5 separate regions of the Homo sapiens genome follow, and regions 1, 3, 4 and 5 are each linked to region 2. Evidence: fine-mapped expression QTL. A gene starts in region 2. Each other region holds a variant in brackets. All regions are shown on one strand. Distances are from middle to middle.

Region 1 (5,102 bases), 950 kb after region 2:
TTTAAGTTTCTCAGCCTTTGAATCAGTTACTTCCGACCCAGCTCTATTTATTGACATGGAAAGATGCCCAAAGCGTACTGCTGAAGGGAAAAAAGCAGGCTACAAAAGAATATATGCCTCACAGGCCATTTTAAAGATCAAAGCTAACAATGACATCTAGCTCCTAGTAGGGTACCTGGGACACAGGAAACTGTCACTGAAAGCTAGCTGTGACTATTAGTAATATGAAAGGATTTTTGTAGTCAGTATGATGCCACATTCAAATATTATGTGAGTTCCTGTGAAACGAGATGATATTTGCAATGTGCTTGCATCAAAGGGAGGTAGAGCTGCGTGTTCCCTTCTGCCTTCCTTCTGACACATTTCAGGGAGTGACCATGGGCAGGGCTTGAGTTGGCCTTGGGACCCATTGATTTGATGTGAATTTTGCTACTTTTTTTTTTTTTAAGAGACAGAGTCTCACAGTTTGGACTGCAGTGGCTATTCACAGGCGTGATCCCACCACTGATCAGGGCGTGAGATTTGACCTGCTCTGTTTCCAGCCTGGGCCAGTTCACCTCTCCTTAGGCAACCTGGTGTTTCTTTGCTCCCAGGAGGTCATGTTTTGGTCCTTTTTTATGTGGCACTGGAGTGAAAGAAAAGAAAAGCATTGCCCTTTGGCATTGAGACTACAAACTTGGGTTTAGGGTGCTCTTTGTAATAACTGAGGTACTATAACAAATTAAACACTCGAGGGCGCTCCAGTCTATCAGCAATAGAGAGAAATACAAAAAGCCATGATAATAACGATGCTGTATGAATGCTGCTGTTACATTTAACAATGCTGTTTACATTTAACATTGAGTTCTTACTATGAGAGCCTAAAATGTAGCAAGAGAGTCACAAACTTTATCACATTTTAACCTTGCAAACATCCCATCAGTTAGAGAATATTATCAAAGATTTTATAATAGGGCATATCGCTCTGTGGGATTTAAAAAATTTGTGTATTATATATATACGTATATACATATATATACACATATATACGTATATACATATATATATACGTATATACATATATATACACATATATATATATGTATATATATATAATTTTTTTTGAGACAGGGTCTCACTCTGTCGCCCAGGCTGGAGTGCAGTGGCACAATTGCGGCTCACAGTAGCCGAGATCTCCTGGGCTCAAGCAATCCTCCTGCCTCAGCCTTCCAAGAAGCTGGGACTACGGGTATGCACAACCATACCTGGCTGATTTTTTAATTTTTCTGTAGAGACAGGGTCTTGCCATGTTGCCCAAGCTGGCCTTTGACCTCCCAAAGTACTGGGATTACAGACATGAGCCACCGCAACTGGCCTAAAAATATTTTTTTATGGAGTTGTAATTCACAAGTGTTGTAAAAGGTAAAAACATTAAGTGTACAGCTTGGTGAATTGTTACATGTGTATACACACAGGTAACCTCCATCCAGATCAAGATGTAAAGCTTTTCTAATATCCTTTCTACTCACTCCTACTCCCACCCAACGAAACCATGCTCCTGATTCTATTACCATTTATTCGTTTTGCTTATTTCTGAACTTCACATAAATGGAATCATACATATGCAAACTTTAGGGTTGCCATAAAAATTCAGGATGTCATTTTATTTTTTTTTTTTTTGAGATGGAGTCTTGCCCTTTCACCCAGGCTGGAGTGCAATGACATGATCTCAGCTCACTGCAATCTCCGCCTCCCAAGTTCAAGTGATTCTCCTGTCTCAGCCTCCCAAGTAGCTGGGATTACAGGCACGTGCCACCATGCCTGGCTAATTTTTTTTTTTTTTTTTTTTGTATCTTTAGTAGAGACAGGGTTTCACCATGTTGGCCAGGCTGGTCTCAAACTCCTGACCTCATGATCCTCCCGTCTTGGCCTCCCAAAGTGCTGGGATTACAGGCATGAGCCACCGCACCTGGCATCAATGTGCTCTTCTTAATCACTGTATAGTATTCTTTTTCTTTTTCTTTTTTTTAGAGATGGGGGTCTTGGTATATTGCCCAAGCTGGTCTCAAACTCCTGAGCTCAAGTAATCCACCTGCTTCAGCCTTCCAAAGTGTTGGGATTATAGGCATGAGCCACGGTTCCCAGCCCATGAGCCACTCAATTGCTGTATAGTATTCTATTGTACAAATGTACCACCATGTACTTATTCCTTCTACTGTCGGTGGCCAAGGGTGGGTTATCTTAGAAAAGCAGTATAGAGTGGTGGTAAGTGAATGCACTGTGGTATCAGAGGCCTGGGGGACTTGTCTCTTAGCTCCACCTCTTACTTGTGACCTTAGCCAAGTTACTTAATCTCCTTATGCCTCAGCTAACTCCACATTAATATGGACTAATAATAGTACCTCAAATGCTGTTGTATGGTTTAAAGGAGATATTCCATATAAACCACTTCAAATTAGTCCCAGCACAGAGTTAACTCAGTACATGTTATCTGTGTCATACCCATGAAACCTAGGAGAAGACTGAAGTTCAGAGGCTTGAAGATACTTGCTCAAAGTCACACACCCAGTATGTAACAGATCCCTTTGTCATGGATATTGACTAAATTAGAGTCATTCATTCATTCAACATTTTTTTTTTTGCACATCTATTATGTGCCAAGCACTCTTTTAGGACCTGAAACAGCCAGAAAGTTTCTACCGATATGAAACGTACATTCTTTTTATTTTTTTGAGATAGGGTCTCACTCTGTTGCCCAGGCTGCAGCGCAGTGGCACAATCTTGGCTCACTGCAACCTCTACCTCCCAAGGCTCAAGCAATCCTCCCACCTCAGCCTCCCAATTAGTTGGGACTACAGCTGCACATTGCAACACCTTAGGGAGGTCTCACTAAGTTGCCCAGACTGGTCTCAAACTCCTGGGCTCAAGTGATCCTCCTGCCTTGGCCTCCCAAAGTGCTGGGATTACAGGTGTGAGCCACT[G/A]TCTCCAGCCTAAATCAAATTCTTACTTATAGAAAGAAGCTTATAGACATGGCAATGTGCCTGGAATATCTTGTTTAGTGTGTATATGTGTGTATATATATATGTATAAATGTGTGTATACATATATGTATATATGTGTGTATACACACACACACACACACACACATATATATATACGTATATATACATATATATGTGTATATACATATATAAAATCAGGTCCTAAGACCATAAGCAGGTGTGGTATGTCTGCATGGAGCCCCGTCTGGGGATACACTGAACAACCCTTTAAATAGCACTTATTCTGTGTTGAGTGCTGTGCTAAGCACTCCACAAATGGTTAGCTTGTTTCATGCTCCTAACATTTAATACCCTATGTGTGACAGGTGCTGCCATTATACAGATTTGCAGGTAAAGAAATAGGCAGCAGAGAGGCTACACTCTAGCATGGTTAGGTTGCAAGCCAGCACGTGGCCCTGGGCACTTTGGTCTGAGTCTGTGCTCTTGACCACTTAGCTCTGCTACCTCTGCTAAGAGCATTTTTCTCTGGGTAGTAAAATTTCCACATTTTGAACTTTCTTATTTGTACTTCTCTTTATTGGTTGAGCTTTTGTGATAAGTAGGTTCCGTTTTCATTAAAAAAATTACTGGAGTTCTAATATGGGTTTTTGATGTCTTTAAGAATTAACTATGAATGCCTGCAGGGAAGGCTAGAATCCTAAGAGGGAGTCATTTTTCCAAAGGGACAAACCACTCCGGTCTCTTTTTGTGGCAATGAGACTACTGTCCTTGGTGTTGAGGACCCAGGGGCCAGCCCTGACTTTCTCCCACCCACTGTGATCCTGGGCAAGTCCCTGGTGTCCCTGTCACTACCTTCCAACAGCGAGGCACCTGGCATGGAGTGGCCCTTAATAAATATCCATTGGATAGAGGAAGAATGAACCACTGTCTCCTCTGGGCCTTGCTCCACCTCCACCACCACCAATATCTGCTCCCTGCCTATCCTTGGGGCCTTGAGAATTAACGAATGAATGAAGTCACTGTAAAGTGCTCATTATTTACAGGTTTTTATATTTATTTATTTTGAGACAGAGTCTCACTCTGTGGCCCAGGCTGGAGTGCAATGGCACGATCTTGGTTCACTGCAACCTCCGCCTCCCGGGTTCAAGTGATTCTCCTGCCTCAGCCTCCTGAGTAGCTGGGATTACAGGCACCCGCCACCATGCCCAGCTAATTTTTGTATTTTTAGTAGAGATGGGGTTTCACCATGTCGGCCAGGCTGGTCTTGAACCCTTGACCTCAAGCGATCCACCCACCTTGGCCTCCCAAAGTGCTGGGATTGCAGGTGTGAGCCACCACACCTGGCCTTGTTTGTAGGTTTTTAGAAAGGCAAACAGCAAGCAACATCAGACCCAACCAGATGGATAACTAATGGTGACCCCCCGAGGCTAGGGGAGTGTCCTTCCAAGCGTCCCTGAAACCAATGTGCAGGCTGCATCAGAGACAGGCCCAGGCCTTGCTGCTGGGAGTTTCCTGCCTGTGACCACCCCCACCTCGTGACCCGGCTCCTATCACCCCAGCCTCAGAAAGGCTGGGCCGCAGGGCCATAAATGCCTGCTATCATCAGTCCGTATCTCTAGAGCTGGGCTGTTTGCCAGGAGCCCTGCAATTATTTTTATTACATACAAGTCCTATAATTAATTTTTATCACTGTTTTCTCACAGCCACCTTGCAAGGAGGGCTAGTTTTGCTCTCTTTTGGTTTGGAGTTGGGGGAACTGGAACCCAGGCCTTGAAGGGGTTTCATGGAATTTCCTGGCTTTGCCCAAAGCTCTAGAAAGGGTTAGGGTTTGAATTCATAGACCGTGCTGGGGTCCGAGCAGAGAGTTGGCAGCAAGGTGGGGTGGGTGGTGGAGAATAGCCATTCAGAGTAGACAAAAGCCCTGAGGCTTGGCTGCTTCTTAGCTGTGTGACCTTAGGCAAGTCACTCAAACTCTCTGTGCCTTAGGTCCTTTTGTTTTGTTTTGTCTTGTTTTGTTTTTGAGACGGAGTTTCACTCTTGTTGCCCAGGCAGGAATGCAATGGTGCGATCTCGGCTCACCGCAAACTCTGCCTCCCGGGTTCAAGCGATTCTCCTGCCTCA
Region 2 (5,095 bases):
CCAACAATTCAGCCAAACGCAATGTTTTTTAGCTCCTCAAGGATATGCTCTCTCCGTTTAAAGTCTTCACGAGCTGCTCGTTCTGCCTGGCTTACGGACTGTGCCTGGCTAACTCCCAATCGTCCTTCAGCTAAAAACAGCTCTTCAGTGACCATAGAAACTAGGTTAACATGCCCCTATTTTCTGGTACCAGAGTAGTTCCTCATCATGCTATTTATTACACTGTGAATTGTAGTATTTACTTGATTTTCTCCTCCATAAACAGTAAACTCTATGAAGGCAGGTATACAGTACAGCCTGTCTTGCTCAAAACTGTATTCCAGATGCCTAGCATGGGTGTTCCATAAACATTTCTTGAATAAATGGAATGAGTGAGTGATAGGAATATGGGATCGGTTAGAGAGCTAAAGACATGTAGTGGGTTTGATATCTTTGCAATATGAAAAATGAAGTCGAATGGTTGGCATATTATTATTAGTTTATTATTTATACCGTGCTCTGTTCCAAAAAGGATGTAAGGAGGCAGCATGGCTTGAGTACCACCTTACTTGATGAGTTAAGGAGTTCACATCCATCTAGAGACACTTGTCTGAGAGACTGTATTAGAAGACTACGGGATGGTTTAGGGGAGGGAAGAGTGCTAAGAAAAGCAGTGGCATCTTGTCCAACCTCATCTTCTCTCTCCTCATTTGCAAATCATATCTCAGGAGTAAGCCAAAAACTGGTGGGAGGGTTGCAGCAGGAAAAAATTAGCAGTAAAGCAGGAGAGGGTTAATTCTTAGAAAGGTACACAATCCCACCATCCTTCCCACCTCTGGTGCCTACTGCAAGTAAAGAGTCTGGTCTTCTCCCGACAGGCTCTGGCTGGGCCTGTGGTCTCATGTGGAGAATAGCCAGCGTGGTCAGTCTGTAGGCAGGGGCCCACTGCTAGCTGCAGGCTCCAGGCTCTGCCCCTCCATCACCCCTTTCCTCCTCTTCATCCGACTGTGCCAAGGGCGTATCTGCTCCATCATCACTTGGATTTGGGCTATGCAGGTTGGTGGAGGAGTCGGAGGAGGAGGAGGAGGAGGTCCTAGATGTGGTCCTGTCTGATGTAGGCACCGGCAGGCTCAGCTCCTCCAAATGGTTGTCCATCCCTGCCCAGAGAGAAAAGCTGGTCAGGCCACAAACAGGGCTTCAGAGAACTCTTAAAGATTATCTGGCCAGGAGTAACTAAAGTCCACAGTGGGGCAGAGACTTGTCCAAAGTGACTTTGCCAATCCAGCAAAGAGCCAGGATTAAGATCACCATCTCCTGACTGCCAGCTCCTTCCACGTCATTACACCATGTCTGGGATCTACAGTCAGGTCAATGAATGGCAAGAGTTCAAGTTCCACCTACATCACTTATTGCTGCTGAGTGGCTTTGAGCAAGTCACTTTCCCTTTCAAGGACTCTGTTCCTCCTCTGCAAAATAAAAGGGATACCTACATCCCCAAAGGGTTTTGGGAATAAAACCTAAGAATGCTTATAAAATGTCTGGCATAGTAAGCCATCAATAAATAGTAGCAGTTTTAATTAAAAGAATATCTATCTTACAAGTTAAGCATATGGGCTTTGGAGTCAGACAGACATGAATTCCAGTTTATCTACCTTCTGGCTACAATGTGACTTAACTTCTCTGAGCCTAATTTCCTGCTTATAAAATAGAGATTATATCACCTACCCTGACAGGACGTTGTAAGGATTGAGATAATATATGTAAAGTACTTTAGTACAGTATTGGAACCTACTAAAGTACTCAATACATATTAATATCATTATAATGACTAAAACTACTTAAGTTGCCAAATATAAAAATTACAATTTTACATTATTTTAATTATAGTGACTAATTATATTAATATAACAAATGTAAAATTAAAGAAGAGATTGACCGTTCCCAGAATTTTGGATTAGAGATGTGTAACCCAGTTCTCCCTCAGGGTCAACTTCCCTAAAATCAGAACAGGCAGCTGTTTCATTGGTAGAAACACCCACTTCCAGCCCTTACTTGTGTACTTCCCCAGCCCAGCCTTGTAGCCTCGTTTCAGAGCCTGACATCCGGCTCTGGCTGACTGGCACTGAAGTCCCCAAAGCAGAGGGGCATACCAGACGACTGGGGGGTTGGTGGAGGATCTTCGCAAGGCAAGAACACATCTGCTGCATCCGGGTCCCCAAGGTCAATAAGTTCTACTTGCTCCAGTGTGTCCACATTCACTTCCATGGATGAGATACTACCTATGGGGGCTGCGGATCAAGAAGTGGGCAAGTCAGGAGGACCCAAGCTGCACACCAGGACAGTGAGAGTTACATGTCAGGTCCCAAGTTAGAAGCATAGAGGGCCAAGAAAACCAGAGGGGAGAGAGTGCCACAAGATTCAGGACCCACAGGACATCCTCCCTACCCTACCCCAGTCCCTCTTCTCAGGACTTGGGACTTACGTCTCTGCGACTCGAGATGCAGATGGGACAGAGGAAAGACAAACTCTGTCTCTGGCTGTAAAATGTCCTCGAAGAATTTTTGCCGCTCCCGAAGGCGGAGCTGCTGGCGCTCCAGGGCGGCCCGAGGATTTGGGTCCATGTCAGCTCCTGCGGGTAGAGGAGCAAAACAAGTACAGCTGCAAAGTCGAAAGAGAAGACAGAGGGGACCTGGGCTTGGGGCGCCCCACTGCAGCCAGCATCCCAACAGTGGGGCCCCTGGCTCCGGCCTGGACACCTCTGCCCTTGGTGACCTCTTTCCCCTTCCCTGAAACCAAGTGTGTCCCACAAACCAAGTCTCATGCAGAGGCGGGGCTTGCCCTAAGCTCCACAAAGGGGATGCCAGTTCCAGGCACCACAAGAGAGATACTCTGTATTCAGGGAACACAGCCAATGCCCAACTCTCCATATCATGCCCTCCTGAGAGGGGTTGGAGGGATTGGTTCAGCACAAATGGAGGAGGTACGTTTTCCCCTTAATTGGCCCCGCTTGCCTCAGAAGGCCAGGGACAGGATAGGATAGAGACAGAGATCTCAGGGTGGAGGGTTCCCTTCCTCCAGTGCTGCAGCCCACCCCTTCCCATCCTTCAAAACCCAGACAAAGGCTAAAGCAACTCCTCCCGCGCCCCTCCTTTTCTCTCCACCCACACAAACACGTACACACGCATGTGCCATCTACCCCAAACCCTTGCTCTGAAGTCACAGGCCTGACTTCCAGACTAGGCTCTGCCCCTAAGGAAATCACCTTTCTGGTCTTAGTCTCCCCATCTGAAAATGGCATAACCAACCTACCTGCCTCAAATACAAGACCCTGCTTGTGAAGGTGAGCTATTTAGGAGACTACCATCTTTCCTTTGAACTCCAACAGCTCTTTATGCGTCCCCCTCCTGGGACACATCTCACTGACTTATCTCCCCATTAGTCAGTGAGGAGCAATTGGAAAGGCGGGTTCTGGGTCCAGTTCAGAGCAGGCCTCCTGACCCCTAGGGCTGAGAAGCTGAGACCCTGCCAGAGCACTGAGGCTATGGGCCAGCCCAGGTCGGTGCATTCATTCCCATTCGCTCATCTCCTTCCCGGCGTTCTGCTCTGAGCCCATCACCAGAGGCAAGGGAGTTTCTAGCTTGAGGATCAGACGTCATCCTCCGCAGACTGCCTTCCCCACCTCATCTGCACCCAGCGTATCCCAGACCCTGGCCAGCTCCACGGGCGCCACAGAGGTGGAGAGGGACCCAACCCCGACTGGCCAAGGCAGGGCCACGGAAGTCTGGGGAGACCGTGCGGCCGCGGGCTGGCGGCGGAGGAGCGAGGCGCTGACGCCGATTCCCGGGAAAGGCTCTTAGAGCTGCCGCCCAGGTCACAACGCTAAAAATACCCAGGGCCCCTGGAGCCTGTGCTCCAGCAGCGAGGAGGGGGAGGGAGAGGCCAAGGTGGGGGAGCTGACGGGGGCCAGGGGCTCTGGGACACCCCCTCTCTTTTCCCCTCCCCCTAACCCCACCGATCTCACGAGACTGAAGGAGCTGTCCCCCGGGGGGCCGCGGAGCCCAGAGCTGGAGAAAGGGAGTTGTTTACGCGACCTATAGGTACTGGAAAGGGGGTGAAGAGATTTGGGGGCAGGAGGCTGCCAGGGGCCGGGCAGGAGCCAGCGAAATGGAGAACTCCCTCTCGGTCTCAGCCCCACCCGCACTGGAGCCAGCAAGAGGGAAAAAATTCCCTAAAAAGGGACACGAGGCGTCGGCGGAGGACGGGGGGAGGGCGCTCCCCCAAGGCCGTTCCCCTCGTGCTCCGGTCCCCTCCGCGGTCCACCGCGGCACCTGCGCCCACCGCCGCCGGAGCCCCTACCTGCAGCGCTGGCGCCCCCTCTGACTCAGTCCGTCCGCTCCAGCGAGGCCGCGGCGGGGGCGTGGGAGCGAGCCGCGCCGGCCGGGGTGGGGCTGCGCCTCCAGGGCTCCCGGGGGACCGACGGGCCCTGGGAGCCGGGAACGAGGAAGAGGCGGGAGGCGGAAGTGGGGGAGGGGCGGTGGCGGGCTCACTCGCTCGCAGCTCGCCCGGCGGTCGGAGGCAGCCCCTGCGAGCGCGGCTACTGGTACTTCCAAGGCGGTCAAAAAGTTACCCGCACCCATCCTTCCTCCCTCCGCCCAGCCGGACTCCTCTGCACCACCCTCGCCACCGACGCCGGTGCGCTAGTCTCCGCTCGCTCGGATGCACTTGCTGCGCCCCCGCCCCGCGCAGACCCGCGGCGGGCGCCCGCGCCGGTTCTGCCCACGCACACTTGATGCTCTGCGCCTTTTGGGCAGCGCCCACGCAACGACTACGCACCCGAACCCTGCCTCCGGCACCCTTGGCCACACTCGCCACACTTACACGCGCGCACTTCTCCAGAGGACGCACGATGGGAAAGAGAGAGTTGGGACCCGCAGGAGGGGGCAGGGCACTGACCCGGTGCCGCCCAGCAGGGCAGGTGCAAGGCGGCGGAGGACCCCTGCCCTGGGACTCGCCCGGCTGCCCCTGATTCCTGGCTCTGGGACTAGACAGAGCCGCCGCCCAACCTACCAAGCACACTGGGCGGGGTGGGCGCCGGGCCGGCCGGGCGGGTCAGAGC
Region 3 (5,102 bases), 670 kb after region 2:
TTGCTCTTGACAGCAGCCCTTCCCTGCCAGTGAGGAGCTTAGCATGGCAGTGTTACAGGTGGCAGTTGCTGCCATATGGCAATTTGAGCCCAGTTGCTACAGACAGAGGCCTGTCCCTTTTCCTCCTGCCAAGGACCACCCCTCCCTTTCCCAGTCAGCATAATATGTTGGAATCAAGAGCTGTCTGTCTGAATCAACGGGGGCAGGACTTGCATTTCACAAGACATCATGGGCTAGAAAGAGTCAAGGCAAAGAAAGAGCCTGAGACGTGAAGAAATACATGTGCTAATGTTAGTGTAACACAGAGCTTCCCTACCCAATGCCTTAGCCAGTAACCATATGTGGCCATTTATAGTTAAATTAATTAAAATTGAATTAAGTTGAAATTTCAAGCCAGGTGCCATGGTGTGAGCCTATTGTCCCAGATACTTGAGAGTCTGAGGCAGGAGGACTGCTTGATTCAAATACAGGCTGTCTGGTTCCAGAAACCTGCCCTTAACATTTATTCATAATCTTCGCTTTATATAGGCTAAGGAGGCTTTTGAGGGAAGGAAAGCTGGTATAATGTCCTGAAGAAAGTCCTGCAGGGGCTGGGCACAGTGGCTCATACCTGTAATTCCTCTCAAAGTGCTGGGATTGCAGGCATGAGCCACCGTCCCTGGCCAATTCTGGTTTCTTTAAAGTGGGGCAAGGACCTGCAGACATTTGTATGGCAACTGGAGTGCAGAATCCCTCTAGATTCTTGTGGGTTTTTTTTTTTCTAGATGTTTTGTAGTTGTTTCTTCCACACCTAATTTGACAGTATTCTTTTTAGCAACCAGTCTTCATTCAGTTTTCAGAAAAACAAATCTCTTCCTTTTGCACTCATATTTCATCAGTTTATGGAATATCTAATTCAGTTACATTGTTACAATATTAAGTGTGCTGTGTGCAAACTGATTTGGGAACAGACCCAGCAGACTGTTGGCAAGCATGCTCTTCTACGGCCAAGAGCCAAAGGCGACCAGGGGCCTAGGGAATGGCTTACTAGCCATAAGCATTCAGTATGCCTGGGGCAGTAGCGTTGCATTCAGAGAGCATGGAGAGCGCTGGTTAGCCTGGCAAGCTGGTTAAACAGATTAGTAAAGAGGACTTTGTGCACTAACTCTGGAAAAGACTCCATAGTGTGGAATTGTCTCTGGAAGACATGTGCCCCACTGGAGACTACATTTCCCAGCATCCTTGGCATCTAGGTGTGACCATGTGACTAGTCTCCACCAATGGAATGTGAGCAGGAGTGGTGAGTGTCACTTCCAGGCAGGGCCTCGAGGAAGTAGGTGAGCTTCTCCATCCCTGTCTGTCTAGATGCAGAGAACCCAAAGCCCTGCAGGATGGCAAAGCTGCAACATGGAAGTCACCCGGATCACCACGTAAAGGAAATCTCTCCAACCAGGAACAAACACCTGCCTTGCAATATTAGGTAAGAGATAAACTGCTATTGTGTTAAGCCACTAGATCTTGGGGGCTGTTCGCTATAGCAACTAGCATTACCCTCTTTAATACACTTCCCATATAAGGCTGTCATGAGGATTAAGTTAAATGACACACATGTAAGAGACTCTTAAATGGGACTTTTCCTATTGTCTCAGATTTACAGCTAAAGCCCCAAAGCCAAGGACGGACAAGAGGTGTCAAATACCACCATATCATGCCTGCAGGAACTTTTTTTTTTTTTTTTTTTTTTTTTTTTTGGAGACAGGGGTCTCACTCTGTCACCTACGCTGGAGTGCAATGGTGCGATCTTGGCTCTGCAACCTCTGCCTCCTGGGCTCAAGCTATCCTCCCACCTCAGCCCCCCAAGTAGCTGGGACTACAGGCACAAGCCATCATGCCTGGCTAATTTTTGTATTGTTTGTAGAGATGGGGTTTCGCCATGTTGCCCAGGCTGGTCTCGAACTCCTAAGCTCAAGCAATCCAACCTCCTCAGCCTCCCAAAGTGCTGGAATTACAGGCGTGAGTCACTGTGCCCACCCCCTGCAGTACTTTCTTCAGGACGTGGAAGAGGCCATTGCTAGGCTCTCTCTGGTCCTCCAAAGGCCAGAGCCCATATTGCAGTTCGGGACATGGCTGCTTTCCAAACTAGGATGGGATAATTTTTTAAATCCCTGGGCTGGGAGACAGGAGGCCTGGTTCTCAAATGGACTCTGTCCAAGACTTGCTAAATGACCATAGGAAAAACACTATTCTACATGGACCCCATTGTGGCCCACCTATTCATGGCAGAGGAGTAGGCAAGAGAAACACAGAAACACCCTCTAAGTGCTTTGCTGAGGGCCCATTAACCTCAGGAAACAGAGCCCTGAAGATGTTGTGAGTCCTCTTCTCTCAGGGCCATGGAACCTTCCCCCCACCTCCTCTCCCACTGCCAAGCTTGATCCCCAGGGCTCTGAGCCACACATTCCAAGGTAGAGCTTGAGCCACACGAGTCCCCATAACCTGCATTTGCACCCTTCTTTACCTGCACGGTGTGAATGTTCACCTAGAGCCAGGAAAACAGCACAAGAGGTACCCACCAATGAGGAGTGGGTGTCTGGGCTGTTTCCAGACCCCATGGCAACTACATTTCAGAGCTGGGCCTGTGTTCAAGGGACTCAGGCAAGTAGTTGAGATAATAATAATGTTAATGTTTGAAAAGATTGTAGCATAGTGGAATATTCTCCACCTTCCAGGTCCTTCCTAGGGCTTGGTGCATGTGCATATCTCCTTCCGGAATCCTGGTCAATACTAAGGTAAGATGAAAAAACTGCGGGTTTGGGATAAGCAGGAAAAAAGAAGCAAACTCTCTTAGTGG[C/T]GGAACTTACTGAAGTTAAGCTTCGAGTCTGTATTGGTCAGGACTCTTGGTTGCAAGTGACAGAATCCCAACTCTGTTAGTGTGGTTAAAGGTTAAGCTGCTGTAACAAAGATGCCCAGCAGTGCAGTGACTTAAAGAAGACAAAAGTTTACTTCTTTTTCAACTGCGCTGCCAAGTTGTCAAGGCAGCTATGATCCAGGGGGCCACTCAGAGACCCAGGTTTCTTCATAGTGCACCCCATCATTCCTTAGGACAGTGGTTTCCAGAGTGGTCCTTGGACTGGCAGCTTCAACAGCACCTGGGAACTTGTTAGAAATGTCAATTCTCCAGCCCTATCCTGGGCCTAGCGAATCAGGAACTTTAGGTGTGGGGCCCAGCCATCTGTGTCTTTACAGGCCCTCCGAGTGATTCTGCAAGTTTGAGAATCACTGCACTGCCCCAGGATACTATTCCTGTCTGCACAGTGGAAGCTGGGGCACAGAGGGTTGCAGCCAATGGGAAGGGGAAAGAACTCGAAGCAGGCACACAAACTTGTAAGGCTCAGGTCAGGAAGTGGCACATGTCACTTCCCTTCATATTTTATTGGTAAAGATTGAGTCACATGGCCACACCTAGCTGCAAAGGAGACTGGGAAATGTAGTCTAGGCATGTGCTCAGATAGAAGGGAAATCATCTGAGTAGGAGAAAGAGGCAGTGGAAAGCTCTGTGAACTCAGCATTCTGGTCACTGGGACAGTATAAAATTTGAGATCATTTGTTTCATGACTTTGAACCATGACTATCTGTCCCATGGTAAAATTCCTATACTAGAGAAAGAAGGTAGTTTATCCACATTCTTGTCTAACACAAACATTTGACATTTCTTTATTGTGAAATATTTAAGACATTGTGGCAAAGACTGATGGATGTTTGTGATAGCACATGAAATGTAGATAGACTACATTTCCCAGCCTCCCTTGCAGTTGGGTGTGACCATGTGACTGAGTTTTAACCAATGAGACAAGAGCAGAAGTTCTGTGTGCAACTTCCTGGCTCCGGCTCTCCATGAATTGATTGTCTGGGCTTCCTCCCTGACCTAGTCAGGCCTTACTGGATGCAGATGATTGGGAGAAGGAGAGAGGAAGGAGGAGCCCTAGACGAAGGATCCTGAGTCCCTGTATCACCATGTAGGGGAGCCCACCAAGCAGAAGCACCCATAGGGAATGTTACGTAACACACATAGACTTTGTGCTTTGGCTAGTAAGCATTTTGGCAGTGACGTTCCAATGGCGCTGGTGGTAGTGGAAGTGGATGCAGGTGATAAAGGGGTACATTGTCTGTACAGAATTTTAAAACAGTAATGAAAAGGTCTAAAAGTCAATCTGCTTTTTATTATCACCACATGCCAGCAATTCTAAACATTAGTGTTAAAATATTCCTTCTCACCAGGGAGAAAACTCCCACTGTTAGAAGCATTTGAACCAGAGCGATTCCATCTTGAATAGGGGCTGGGTAAAATAAGGCTGAGACCTGCTGGGCTTCATTCTCAGATGGTTAAGGCATTCTAAGTCACAGGATGAGATAGGACGTTGGCACAAGATACAAGTCGTAAAGACCTTGCTGATAAAACAGGTTGCAATAAAGAAGCCGGCTAAAACCCACCAAAATCAAAATGGCCTCGAGAGTGACCGCTGGTCGTCCTCACTGCTAGACTCTCACCAGCGCCATGAGAGTTTACAAATGCCATGGCAACGTCAGGAAGTTACCCTATATGGTCTAAAAAGGGGAGGCATTAATAATCTATCCCTTGTTGAGCATATCATCAAGAAATAACCATAAAAATAGGCAACCAGCAGCCCTCGGGGCTGCTCTGTCTATGGAGCATTATTCCTTTGCTTTCTTAATAAATTCACTTTCACTTTATGGACTCGCCTTGAGTTCTTTCTTACGCGAGTTCCAAGATCCAGATCCCTCTCTTGGGGTCTGGACTGGGACCCCCTTCCTGTAACACTACCACCTCCCCTGGTCCCTTGGTATGCCACTGGATTTCGGGTTTATTTATTACTGGGATCTGGTTTACCCTAGCTAATAAAGACAGGCATAAAGGTATAAATAGCAATGACGAACATCCATATGTACAACATGTTTTTTAAGGAAAAAAACATTACAAATATGACTGTTGACATGAACATTTAAAATAAATTTAGATTTATTCTGGCAACTGCAGTCTGATACTTAAGCAATCTTCCTGACGTGGGGAAAAGACTCAGGGAGACTTTGCATTCCACAGATGC
Region 4 (5,102 bases), 29 kb after region 2:
ATTCTCCTGCCTCAGCCTCCCAAGTAGCTGGGATTATAGGTGCCCGTCACCATGCCTGGCTATTTTTGGTACTTTTAGTAGAGATGGGGCTTCACCGTGTTGGCCAGGCTGGTCTCGAACTCCTGACCTCAGGTGATCCACCTGCCTCGGTCTCCCAAAGTGCTAGGATTACAGGCATGAGCCACCGTGCCCGGACAAGAGAAGGAAATTCTGACACATGCTACAACATGGAAGACATGTTAAGTGAAATAAGGCAGTCACAAAAAAAAGACAAATATTGTATTAGTCCACTTATATGAGGTTCCTAGAGTAGTCAAATTTATAGGGACAGGAAGTAGAACAATGGCTGCCACGGGCTGGGGGAGGTAAAAATGGGCAGTTATTATTTAATGGAATACAGAGATCCAATTCCATAGGATAAAAAAAGTTTAAAGATGGATATCCATGATGGTTGTACAAAGAGAAGGTACTTAATGTCACCCAACTACTTTTTTAAATGGTTAGGGCTGAGTGCGATGGCTCATGCCCATAATCCCAGCACTTTGGGAGGCCGAGGTGGGCAGATCACTTGAGGTCAGGAGTTTGAAACCAGCCTGGCCAACGTGGTGAAACCCTGTCTCTACTAATAATACAAAAATTAGCTGGGCGTGGTGATGTGTGCCTGTAGTCCCAGCTACTGGTGAGGCTGAGGCACGAGAATCACTTGAATGCAGGAGGTGAAGGTTGTGGTGAGCCAAGATTGCGCCACTGCACTCCAGCCTGGGCGACAGAGTGAAACTATATCTCAAAAACAAAAACAAAAATGGTTAGAAGGTAAATTTTGTGTTATCCATATCTTATTATGCCATATTTTTTTTTTAAAAAAAGAGTGGAGGTTTTCATTCAAGAGTCTTGGATTTAGTCCACAAGGCTTACCAGCTGTGTGTCATTGGGTAGGTCTCTTTACCCACTTCTCCAGTTTTCACCCCTGCCACTCTTGGCTACTGCTTTCTAATCTAGCAACATCCAATGTACAACATAATTCCATTCCACACTCATATTCTTTAAGTTCCCTCTTTTGAGAATGCTCTGCCCACCTCCCTCGACCTGCCCCATACCGCTATGCTTGGCCAACATCTACTCATCCTTCATTCCTCCTCACCATCTCTAGGAAGATCCCCTGACATCCTCAGGCTGGGTTGGGAGGCTCCACCTCTGTGCTCCTACAACCCTCAGTATTACCCGTATCATGCTATTTATTTCATTTTTCAAAAAATACTTTTTGGGCACCCATTGTCCACCAGGCACTGTTCTAGGATCTGGTGGCTTATCAATGAATAAAACGGACACAAATCCCTGCCCTTGAGGAGTCTACCTTCTGGGGTACCTATCCCCTTGGCCTGTGAACTCAGAGGCATGCTCTGCCTATAATGTTGCTGTCCCTTAGTGCCTAGCACACAGTGATTCCCCAGCCCTGGAAGCTCAGGAGTTGAGTAGTGAGTATAGGTGATTCTGATACAGCCCACCAGGCACCAGGGCCTCAGAGCAGCATTGTTCAGTGAAGTCCAGTTGATCAGAGCTGAAATTGTGTGCAAGGAGGGGTATGTCTGAGCAGGCAGAGCAGCCAAGGAGTATGGGGGTAGACAGGAGAGAGAGAGGGTGCACCCTCTGTGTCTTCCTTGCCAAATTACCACATTGCTTTCTTTCCTAGGCCACAGCAGCAGTTTAACCCACTACCTAACCTTCACTTGAATAAGAAAGGATATTTATATGTGAGAAGCTGTCCCACAGCCTAGGTAGGGTTGGCCCCTCACCCCTCCGTTCAGAGCTAAGCACCCACCCCCCGTGCATGTACATCTCTCCCCACTAGAAGTGGAATGGTGTGGAGTGGGTCCCACATTTGATTGGTTATCTGACTGGCCTGCTGAATGGGGTGGTGCCCACAAAAATGTTTTTCACAAGCTCTTCATACTATTCTGATGCAGCCAGCTGGGCACCAGGGATTCAGGGCAGCCAGCGCCCTTTACAGCCTGTTGTGATCTGCCTAACCCACCACGACTCCCTCTCTGCCTCATCTTCTCCCACCACCATTCATTCTCCTCTTCCCTCTCTCTCTCAGGTGTCTGCTCAAATCTCATCTTATTGGTGAATCTTTCCTAGACCACCTTTTTAATATACCAAACCCTCTACCTCTGCCCTCCCTGTTCCCTTTACCCTGGTTGCTGTTCTCCAGGCACTTATTTCCATCTGATGTAGCATTGGCGTGCTGGGGCTAACTCATAAGGGCTCACAAGTCTACTGTTACACTTCTAGGAATTCTGCAGGCTGGTTGTTAGGCACGGCCATCATTAAAATGTAATTGATAGCAACTTCCAATTAAATAAGTGATATTAAAAACATAGGGTGAAAAATGCTTAAACTTGTCACTTTCTATTTTTTACTAC[C/G]TTTTACTATTATCTATGTTCTTAGGATTCTTTATATCTGTATATCTGTAGAGTAGAAATATATCATATATGAATCATATGTAGATCTGAAAAAAGACCCCCCAAAAACAACAAAAAAAGAGAAAACATAAGCAAGTGTCCTGCCCATAGCTATTCGATTGTAAATAACAAAAAGAATCTGAGAAATATATCTCCAGTATTCAAAAACTATGGTCTAATTCAGCAAATAGGTCAATGAAATCATTGATAAATGAGTTAAATTTCAATATCTCTGTTGTTTCACTTTTTCACCTTCTTCTTACTGTTTAGTGTAAATGAAAATACAAACATTAATGTTGGTATTATACTTGTTTATCCATTACAACCATAGGTTGGCTATAAATGGAGGGGTTAGGCAAAATCCAAGAAAAGCATACTATAAGAAGCAACTCACTAATAGAAGTTACAATAAAGAGTATTATAGGATTCTATTATTTGTTGATTTCTATCAGTAAAATTTATAATACAAACACATATACATTTTGCTTCAGAGAGCCAATTATTAAACATTTACAAGTACACACACTGTTTCCCCTCCACTAGAATGTAAGCTTGAGGGCAAGAATTTTCTGTTATTCTAGCACTTAGAAAAAGCACCTGGCAAGGCCAGGCGCGCTGACTCATGCCTGTAATCCCAGCACTGTGGGAGGTGGAGGTGGGCGGATCACAAAGTCAAGAGATCGAGACCATCCTTGCTAACATGGTGAAACCCCATCTCTACTAAAAATACAAAAATTAGCCGGACGTGGTGGCGGGTGCCTGTAGTCTCAGCTACTTGGGAGGCTGAGGCAGGAAAATCGCTTGAACCCAGGAGGCGGAGGTTGCAGGGAGCCAAGATCTCACCACTGCACTCCAGCCTGGCGACAGAGTGAGACTCTGTCTCAAAAAACAAAAAACAAAAAAAGAGAAAGAAAAGAAAAAGCACCTGGCATGTAGCAGGCGCCCAGTCAAAACAGGCGACATGACTGAATGGATGAGCATGGTTTGGGAATCCCTGGTTTCATGGGTTGACTATCAGACCTTGGTTAGGTTTCCAGCCCACTATGATCTAGCTGGGCTAGATCTAGTGTGGCCTTGAGTAGATTATTCAACCTCTTTGAACCCTGGCTTCCTCATTTAAAAAGAGGGGATAATCCTCTTACCCCACAGGGAGGTTGTGACAATGCACACAGCTGTCTGTCGCCTATTGTCTATATTTCTTTCTCACCCTCTACCCCTCACCTCTGCCACATACACTCCTTGGAGACCCAGCCCTGCTACTGTCACATTTCAGTGATGTCACAGCTGCAGGTGGTACAGAGCCAGCACCACCATCTGATGCCCAGCCTGAGTGCTGGCTGAACTGAGAGGAACAGGGTTGGTGCCTGGCACTGGTGTTGCTCCATTCATCTCTGAGGTCTCACAGCCCCAGCATGAGTCCATCAGCAAAGAAGAGGCCCAAGAACAGCAGGGTTTCCAAGGTCAGACTTGGGACTAGACCCTGGGGGTGAGTCCCTAGAGGGGACCTTAACAAAGAATCCACCATGCCAAGGAAAGGGGCTTTCCAGCATGGGAGAAAAGGAAAAGGTGAAGGGTGAAGGGAGGTCAGGAGAGTTAAAATGGTCTCCCAGTTCTGTCCCCAGACCAAGATGACAAAACTCCCAGCCTAGGATTGGTCAAACCATGCTCAGCCAAATGAAGAGGCACATGGAGGAGTTCAGGAGGATTCCTCCAGTGCCTCACTCTGTCGCCCAGGCTGGAGTGCAGTGGCGAGATCTCAGCTGACTGCAGCCTTCACCTCCTGGGTTCAAGTGATTCTCCTGCCTCACCCTCTTGAGTAGCTGGGACTACAGGCGCATGCCACCACACCTCGCTAATTTTTGTATTTTTTTTTTTGGTAGAGTCAGGGTTTCACCATGTTGGCCAGGCATCTCAAACTCCTGACCTCAAATGAGCCACCCACCTCGGCCTCCCAAAGTGCTGGGATTACAGACATGAGGCACCACACCTGGCTGATTCCTCTGGGTTTATGTCTCTCTTATCCTCTGTCCCTCAGATGCAAGATGAGAAACTGCGGGACGAGACAGAGCAGCCTGTGAGCAAAGTAATTGAGCGGAACCGTCTGAGAACGGTGAGACGCCCTGTTTTGGCCCCAGCTTGGGGAAGCTCATATACTCATGCAGTACTGCCCCTGGTTGCCAGGCTGAGTGGCCCAGGGGAGCCAGCAGGCCGGCCCTTGGCTGAGCGGAGCCAGAGGCAGGCAGGGGAGAGGGAGGCTGTCCAGGAAAGCTGAAGCTTCTATTTACCTGGTTTCTTGACCCTGGCAGGTGTTAAAAAACTTGTCGCTCTTGAAGCTACTCAAGAGCTCAAACCGCCGGATCCAAGAACTGCATAAGCTGGCCAAAAGGTGTTGGCATTCACTGCTCAGTGTTCCAAAGATTCTCCGCATCTCCTCTGGGTAAGCTGGGGCCTGGCCCCCATAATGGACCCAAATGCCGTCTTTCTGGGAACAGGCATTGTGCTAAGGCATTTAGAGAACAAGTCTAATTTTCACAAAGCCTCTGTGAGAGAGGTATTTATTAACTCTATTTTACTGCTGGAGAGCTGAGGCTGAAGAGGTGAAGTGACTTGTCTCATTCAGTTAACTCAACTGATAAGTGG
Region 5 (5,102 bases), 36 kb after region 2:
TGATTCATGCCTCAAATAAGATTTACTCTGAACAGGCTAGGCATGGTGGCTCACGCCTGTAATCCCAGCACCTTGGGAGGTCGAGGCAGGAAGACTGCTTGAGGCCAGGAGTTCAAGACCATCCTGGGCAACATAATGAGACACTGTCTCTACAAAAAATTTAAAAATTAGCCAGATGTGGTGCCTTGCGCTTGTAGTATCAGCTACTCAGGAGGCTGAGGTCGGAGGATCGCTTAAGCCCAGGAGTCGAGGCTGCAGTGAGCTGTGACTTCGCCACTGCACTCCAGCCTGGGCAAGAGAGCAAGACCCTGTCTTAAAAAAAAAGAAAGGAAAAAAAGATTTACTCTGAGCAGAAAGTTCCTTAGCAAAAAAAGAAGAAAATACCGCAGCCCTTTCGTGGGAGAATGAAAGTCCCACGAAAGGAAGGGGGTGAGTGCCCACCGGGTCTAGCTTAAAGGGAGGCTTTTCCTTTTTAGCAAAGGCATTTCCAACCTACCAGACACCACAGCACCCTTGTCCCTGCGCCCGCTCCCCAAACGACCAGCGCCCCCTGGGGACAGTCTTAGCGCCTAACACCGAGGTTTCTGCTGGCAGGTTGATGTGACCTGGACGAGAGCCAGAGGTGCGAGCAGAGGGTGGAGATCGCGCCATCAGCTGAAGGGGAGGAATGGGTGGCGAAATTCACGAGTCTACAAATAAGATCTTCCATATGGCACCTAAGACGAATACTGCTTACTCTGCCTGTTTGTCTGGGGCTGGGAAGGATGAAGGAAAGAGGCCTTCGGTAGAGGGAGCCTGTGTCGCGACTTCAGGCTTCCCCCACCCCCACCCCGAGGCCCCTAAGGTCAGTCTAGAACCAAAGAAGCCAGCGAGCAGCACCCCTCCCCCACCTCCGCGAGCTAGTCTCCTGAGTGGCGCGCTCTGTGAAGTCAGGGCGCTCGTGTGCTTCCTGGGTGCAAAGTGCCTCACAATCGCCCCGCGAGCTCGCAAGAGGAAACCGCGGCGCGGAGGCAGCAAGTAACTTGCCCAGGCTCACTCAGCTAGAAAGTGGCAGGAGCAAGGGCTCCTGGTTGCTCCCCATTCCATTTTCCCAAGAAAGGGAAAAGGCGAAATGAGAGCCTGCTCAGAAGTCACGAGGCAGGCGGAATAGCCCCAGCACCCTGTAGGTCATGCGCGTGCATTGCGACCTGATTGTCAAAAATTGATTGTCAAAAACTGATTGCACTGTGGCTGGTGTCAAAAAGTGGATGTCAGCTGGGCCTCCAAATGTGTCCTGCCTTGGTCACAGATCACAGAAGGCACCGGATCAGGAGGGGGAGCTGGTACTGCATCTCTACTGCTCCAGGGTGACATGGCAGGTCCACCCTCAATCTGAAGACCTCAACCCCAAGCCCTGGTCGACCCCATCTGGCCGGGGTCACCCTCTGTCGGTAGGAGTCACAGGGTCCTAACCATGCCGTTGGGGAGAGGAAAGCCAAGGGAGCCCGAGTTTTCTCCGGACGAAGACCTCCATATTCCCCAGAGGCAGGCTGCATGGAGTGGGCGCCCTCGGGAGAGCAGTGGAGCCATCGAGGGGCACAGAGCTCTCCGGGATTGGGGGTCAGGGCAGCGATGCAGATAGATCTCCAGTTTGGGACAGAGGGAGAACGATTGGATGGACTCTCCCCCCCTCCCACCCCGCCCACTCACACACTCCTCCCCACCATTACTGGGCACCAAGACTGGGCATCAGCTGCCGCGCGGACCAGCCTGGGCGGAGCCACAGCGCGGGGACTGCTTAGCACCTCATAGTGGCTGCTGCGTGCTCCCGAGCTCCTGCTCCCAGCGCAATCTTCCTGGAGCTCCCCTACGGTCGGTGCCTACCTCCGCCCCCACCACCCCGCTAATTCCCGTGCAAATTCCACCCCAGTAACCACTTTCAGCGGTCTTC[C/T]CACCCAGCTTGCACTCCAGCCCATTTCCTGAACAGTCTCCCTTGCAGTTCCCTTGCTGGGTATTTTCAATCCCATCAACTTTCGAAAATAATCTCTACTCACTCTTCCATTCCATCAACCTTTGCGTGAACTTCTGTCCTGAGTGCGCTGTCAGCGGGCAGTCAAGACAGCGCCCTCCCAGCTAAAAAATCTGACCCTTTCTGGGGAGCTCCCTTGCACTAGCCTTCGTGGGGGCCTGCCCAGGGAGCCCCAAGTGGAGGCTGGATTGGGTTGGGCCTGAGTGAGACTGGCAACTTCCACTTTGCTCCAGAGAGCCGGAGTTGGGCCCCAGTTGCCCACTGGGAACGCCACTGAATATATGGGAGGGCTGTATACGAAGGCGGGGACCCAGCATGGCCAGGGCAGCAAGGGGCAGGTCTGGGAGTGAGGGAATCCCAGCAGTACATCCTTCCACCTCATCCCACCTGCCCCGGCACTTAGGCCTCTGGCCACCTGCCTCCCACAATTCCACAACCAGGGTCTCCCCACTACCACCCTCTCTTTGTTTAACCATTTCAACCTAAAGCTCCTCCTCTGGGCCCAGTAACACAGATTTGGGGAGGAGGCCACCCTAGAAATGGCTGCTTAACAGTTAACTGGGAAAAAATTGAAGTGTTTGAATCTGATTTTATATTGAGTGACTTTTTAGAAGTCACATGACCTCTCTGAGCCTATTTCATGTTTATAAAATAGTGATACTAATGTCTGTTTCAGGGGGGTTTAAGCAAATCAAGCTTGATGTAGGAGAAGCCAGTTTGTGGGGCATTGAACAAATGTTTGGCCTTTTCCCACGCCACACCACGGCCATCATAATAAAGCCCTGTGGCCAGTCAGTCCCGGCTCCATTTCTCACTTATCAGCAGCTACCTAACTACTCACCTTTATGGAACTAGCTGCTTGTTAACAAGCCAAACGTACGTTTACATTCACAACCTTTTGCTAATATGGCATTTAGATCCCTAAGACTGTCCGTCTCACAATTGTCTGGATCACACATAAACATAACTGGAACGTGAAAAGCAGATGAGGCAGACAGGCCTAGCTTCTTACCAACTTTGTAATGGGGAAAAAGTTGTTTACTCCCAATCCTCTGTTTCTTTGTCTGCAAAATGGGGGAAATAGTAGTGCTTACCTTATTGGACTGAGTAAGAATACACATAAATCACTTTGCAGTACATGCCAGATAGGAGCTCAATACTTGGTAGTGGTACCTAGAGGACTGGCAAGCCTATCCCCCAACATTTGAAAACACAGGCTCAGAAGAAAAATGTCCCTGTTCTGTAAAATGGATAGGGGGGACGGTAGCCTAATAATTGTCTAGAATTATGGATCACTTCCTACGTGCCAGGGGCTGGGCTAGGCGCTTTACACGTGACATCTTATTGCATCTTCACAATAAAACCAGGGAGGGAACACTTTTTCCATTTTAAAGAAGTAAGTGTTGACCTACCAGAAAACAAAACAAAACAAGACAAAACAAAACCCAGGGAAATAAGTACCATTATTACCCTCATTTTACATATGAGGAAATCTAGGTAAGGGAGGTAACATAGCTTACCCAAGATCTCACAGCTAGTAATGGGACTCCAGGACTTTGCACTCCACTGCAGCTCTCTAAAGCCTTCCAGAATTGGACCTATGACTGTGACTTGCCCAGGTAGCGGCAGGGCAGGGATTAAAACCCTCAGCTCCCTCTACTCCCTCCTGCCTCAATGCTATTTCTACCACCCTTTATTACTTTACAACAGAAAACCTTAAGACAGTGGTTTTTAATCTCTCCACAGAGGAGTTCTCTTGTACCTTGATTCCATCCCTACTCCTCTGCCCTAGGTCCCCAGGGCCCTACCTCTGAGACTCCGTGGTCCCTGGGCTGCCGGTACAAGGAGGTGTTGCATACCTGTGCACTGACTGCCTTCTGGGGCTGGCAGAAGGAAGCTACTCTGACCTGGGAGTTGCTGAGGAAGGAGTCCAAGGGGATTCCTGTCCAGGGGAGACTGTTTGAGCTGTGTACCCTCCAGGATGCTGGGAGTCCTGGAGCTTCCCATTGTACCCCCTGATGTCTGCTGGCTGCCATCGTGGCTCTCATTTGGCACTGATATGGACAGGGCTGCCTAGAGCGAGGGGTTAGAAGTACCCTCTGAGCCAGACATCCCTTTTTCCTTTCCTGTCCTCCTTTAAGGGTTATAAACTATTCTGACCATCAGCTATGTAGGAGTCTCCACTTTTCTCTCTGAATGGCCAGAGTTCAGGTGGTGGGTGGGAAAAAGGGAGGTCAACTTCAGACACCTGGAGAGTTAAGAGATATGCCAACTCAGTAGTGGGCTAGTACTCTCTTATCTAGGTACCTTCCTTTATCCTTTGGAAATAGATTTCCCACATTCCTAAGATCATCTGAAAATCTCTGGCCAATGCTGGGCACAGTGGCTCATGCCTGTAATCCCAGCACTTTGGGAGGCTGAGGCGGGTGGATCACTTGAGAGGCCAAGAGTTCGAGACCAGCCTGGCCAACATGATGAAACCCCGTCTCTATGAAAAATACAAAAATTAGCCAAGCATGATGGTGCCAACCTGTAATTCCAGCTACTTGGGAGGCTGAAGTATGAGCATTGCTTGAACCCAGGAAGCAGAGGTTGCAGTAAGCTGAGATTGGGCCACTGCATTCCAGCCTGGGTAATGAAGTCGGAGTGAAACTCTGTTTCAAAAAAAAAAAAGGCCAGTTGGGCTTGGTGGCTCACACCTGTAAAATCCCAGCACTTTGGGAGGCCGAGGCAGGTGGATCTCTTGAGCCCAGGAGTTCGAGACCAGCCTGGGCAAAGTGGCAAAGCCCTGTCTCTAAAAAAATAAAAATAAAAATAAAAATACAAAAATTAGCTGGGCGTGGTGGCATGTGCCTATAGTCCCAGCTACTTGGGGGGCTGCGGCAGGAGGATCATTGAGCCTGGGAGGTTGAGGCTATGATGAGCCAAGATCACACCAGTGCACTCCAGCCTGGGTGACAGAGTAAGACCCTGCCTCAAAAAAAAAAAAAAAAAAAAAAAAGGAAATCTCTGGCTATATTTAATGTACTGCATATCAGCTTTTCTTAGAAAGCTAGTAATGTTTATAAAGTACTATTCATCCTCGGTATTTAAA

Alleles and levels. Alleles are on the strand shown, and positions count from the first base shown. SD is a standard deviation of normalised expression in the study named. Not every link is listed here.
In carriers of allele T in region 3, the expression in amygdala of the gene that starts at base 2,779 in region 2 tends to be lower than with C alone (moderate effect, 0.45 SD a copy in GTEx).
With allele T in place of C in region 5, the expression in tibial artery of the gene that starts at base 2,779 in region 2 is higher (small effect, 0.27 SD a copy in GTEx).

What was found.
Region 1: its variant is fine-mapped to the expression of DBNDD2 in gastroesophageal junction (GTEx, PIP 0.97).
Region 3: its variant is fine-mapped to the expression of DBNDD2 in amygdala (GTEx, PIP above 0.99).
Region 4: its variant is fine-mapped to the expression of DBNDD2 in whole blood (TOPMed, PIP 0.94).
Region 5: its variant is fine-mapped to the expression of DBNDD2 in tibial artery (GTEx, PIP 0.97).

What each region holds. Positions count from the first base shown.
Region 1 is chr20:44,456,639-44,461,740 of GRCh38, reverse strand. All of the region lies in intron 2 of LINC01620 (long intergenic non-protein coding RNA 1620), which reads left to right. Among named protein-coding and RNA genes, the nearest start is that of LINC01620, 6.2 kb to the left of the region's middle. The variant G/A (reference allele first, on the strand shown) is at 2,961.
Region 2 is chr20:45,405,973-45,411,067 of GRCh38, reverse strand. DBNDD2 (dysbindin domain containing 2) reads right to left here and starts at 2,779. Exons shown (of 3, transcript NM_001048225.4): 1 at 2,462-2,779; 2 at 2,130-2,267; 3 at 461-1,136. The coding sequence starts at 2,600. The coding sequence ends at 928. It overlaps SYS1-DBNDD2 (SYS1-DBNDD2 readthrough (NMD candidate)), which reads right to left. Exons shown (of 6, transcript NR_003189.2): 4 at 2,462-2,608; 5 at 2,130-2,267; 6 at 458-1,136. It overlaps LOC107985404 (a long non-coding RNA gene), which reads left to right and starts at 3,179. Exons shown (of 5, transcript XR_007067608.1): 1 at 3,179-3,319; 2 at 4,636-4,954. LOC107985405 (a long non-coding RNA gene) reads left to right here. Exons shown (of 2, transcript XR_001754640.2): 2 at 1-493. RefSeq lists an enhancer at 3,642-4,191.
Region 3 is chr20:44,735,177-44,740,278 of GRCh38, reverse strand. It overlaps KCNK15-AS1 (KCNK15 and WISP2 antisense RNA 1), which reads left to right. Exons shown (of 5, transcript NR_132377.1): 2 at 1,345-1,459; 3 at 2,709-2,768. Among named protein-coding and RNA genes, the nearest start is that of KCNK15, 8.1 kb to the left of the region's middle. The variant C/T (reference allele first, on the strand shown) is at 2,831.
Region 4 is chr20:45,377,009-45,382,110 of GRCh38, reverse strand. TP53TG5 (TP53 target 5) reads left to right here and starts at 3,786. Exons shown (of 5, transcript NM_014477.3): 1 at 3,786-3,922; 2 at 4,498-4,572; 3 at 4,769-4,899. The coding sequence starts at 3,875. The region is part of intron 3 of SYS1-DBNDD2 (SYS1-DBNDD2 readthrough (NMD candidate)); the gene reads right to left. The variant C/G (reference allele first, on the strand shown) is at 2,424.
Region 5 is chr20:45,369,504-45,374,605 of GRCh38, reverse strand. TP53TG5 (TP53 target 5) reads left to right here. Exons shown (of 5, transcript NM_014477.3): 5 at 595-2,049. The coding sequence ends at 699. The region is part of intron 3 of SYS1-DBNDD2 (SYS1-DBNDD2 readthrough (NMD candidate)); the gene reads right to left. It also overlaps a transcript of SYS1 not described here. Among named protein-coding and RNA genes, the nearest start is that of TP53TG5, 6.3 kb to the left of the region's middle. RefSeq lists an enhancer at 1,204-1,263. The variant C/T (reference allele first, on the strand shown) is at 1,931.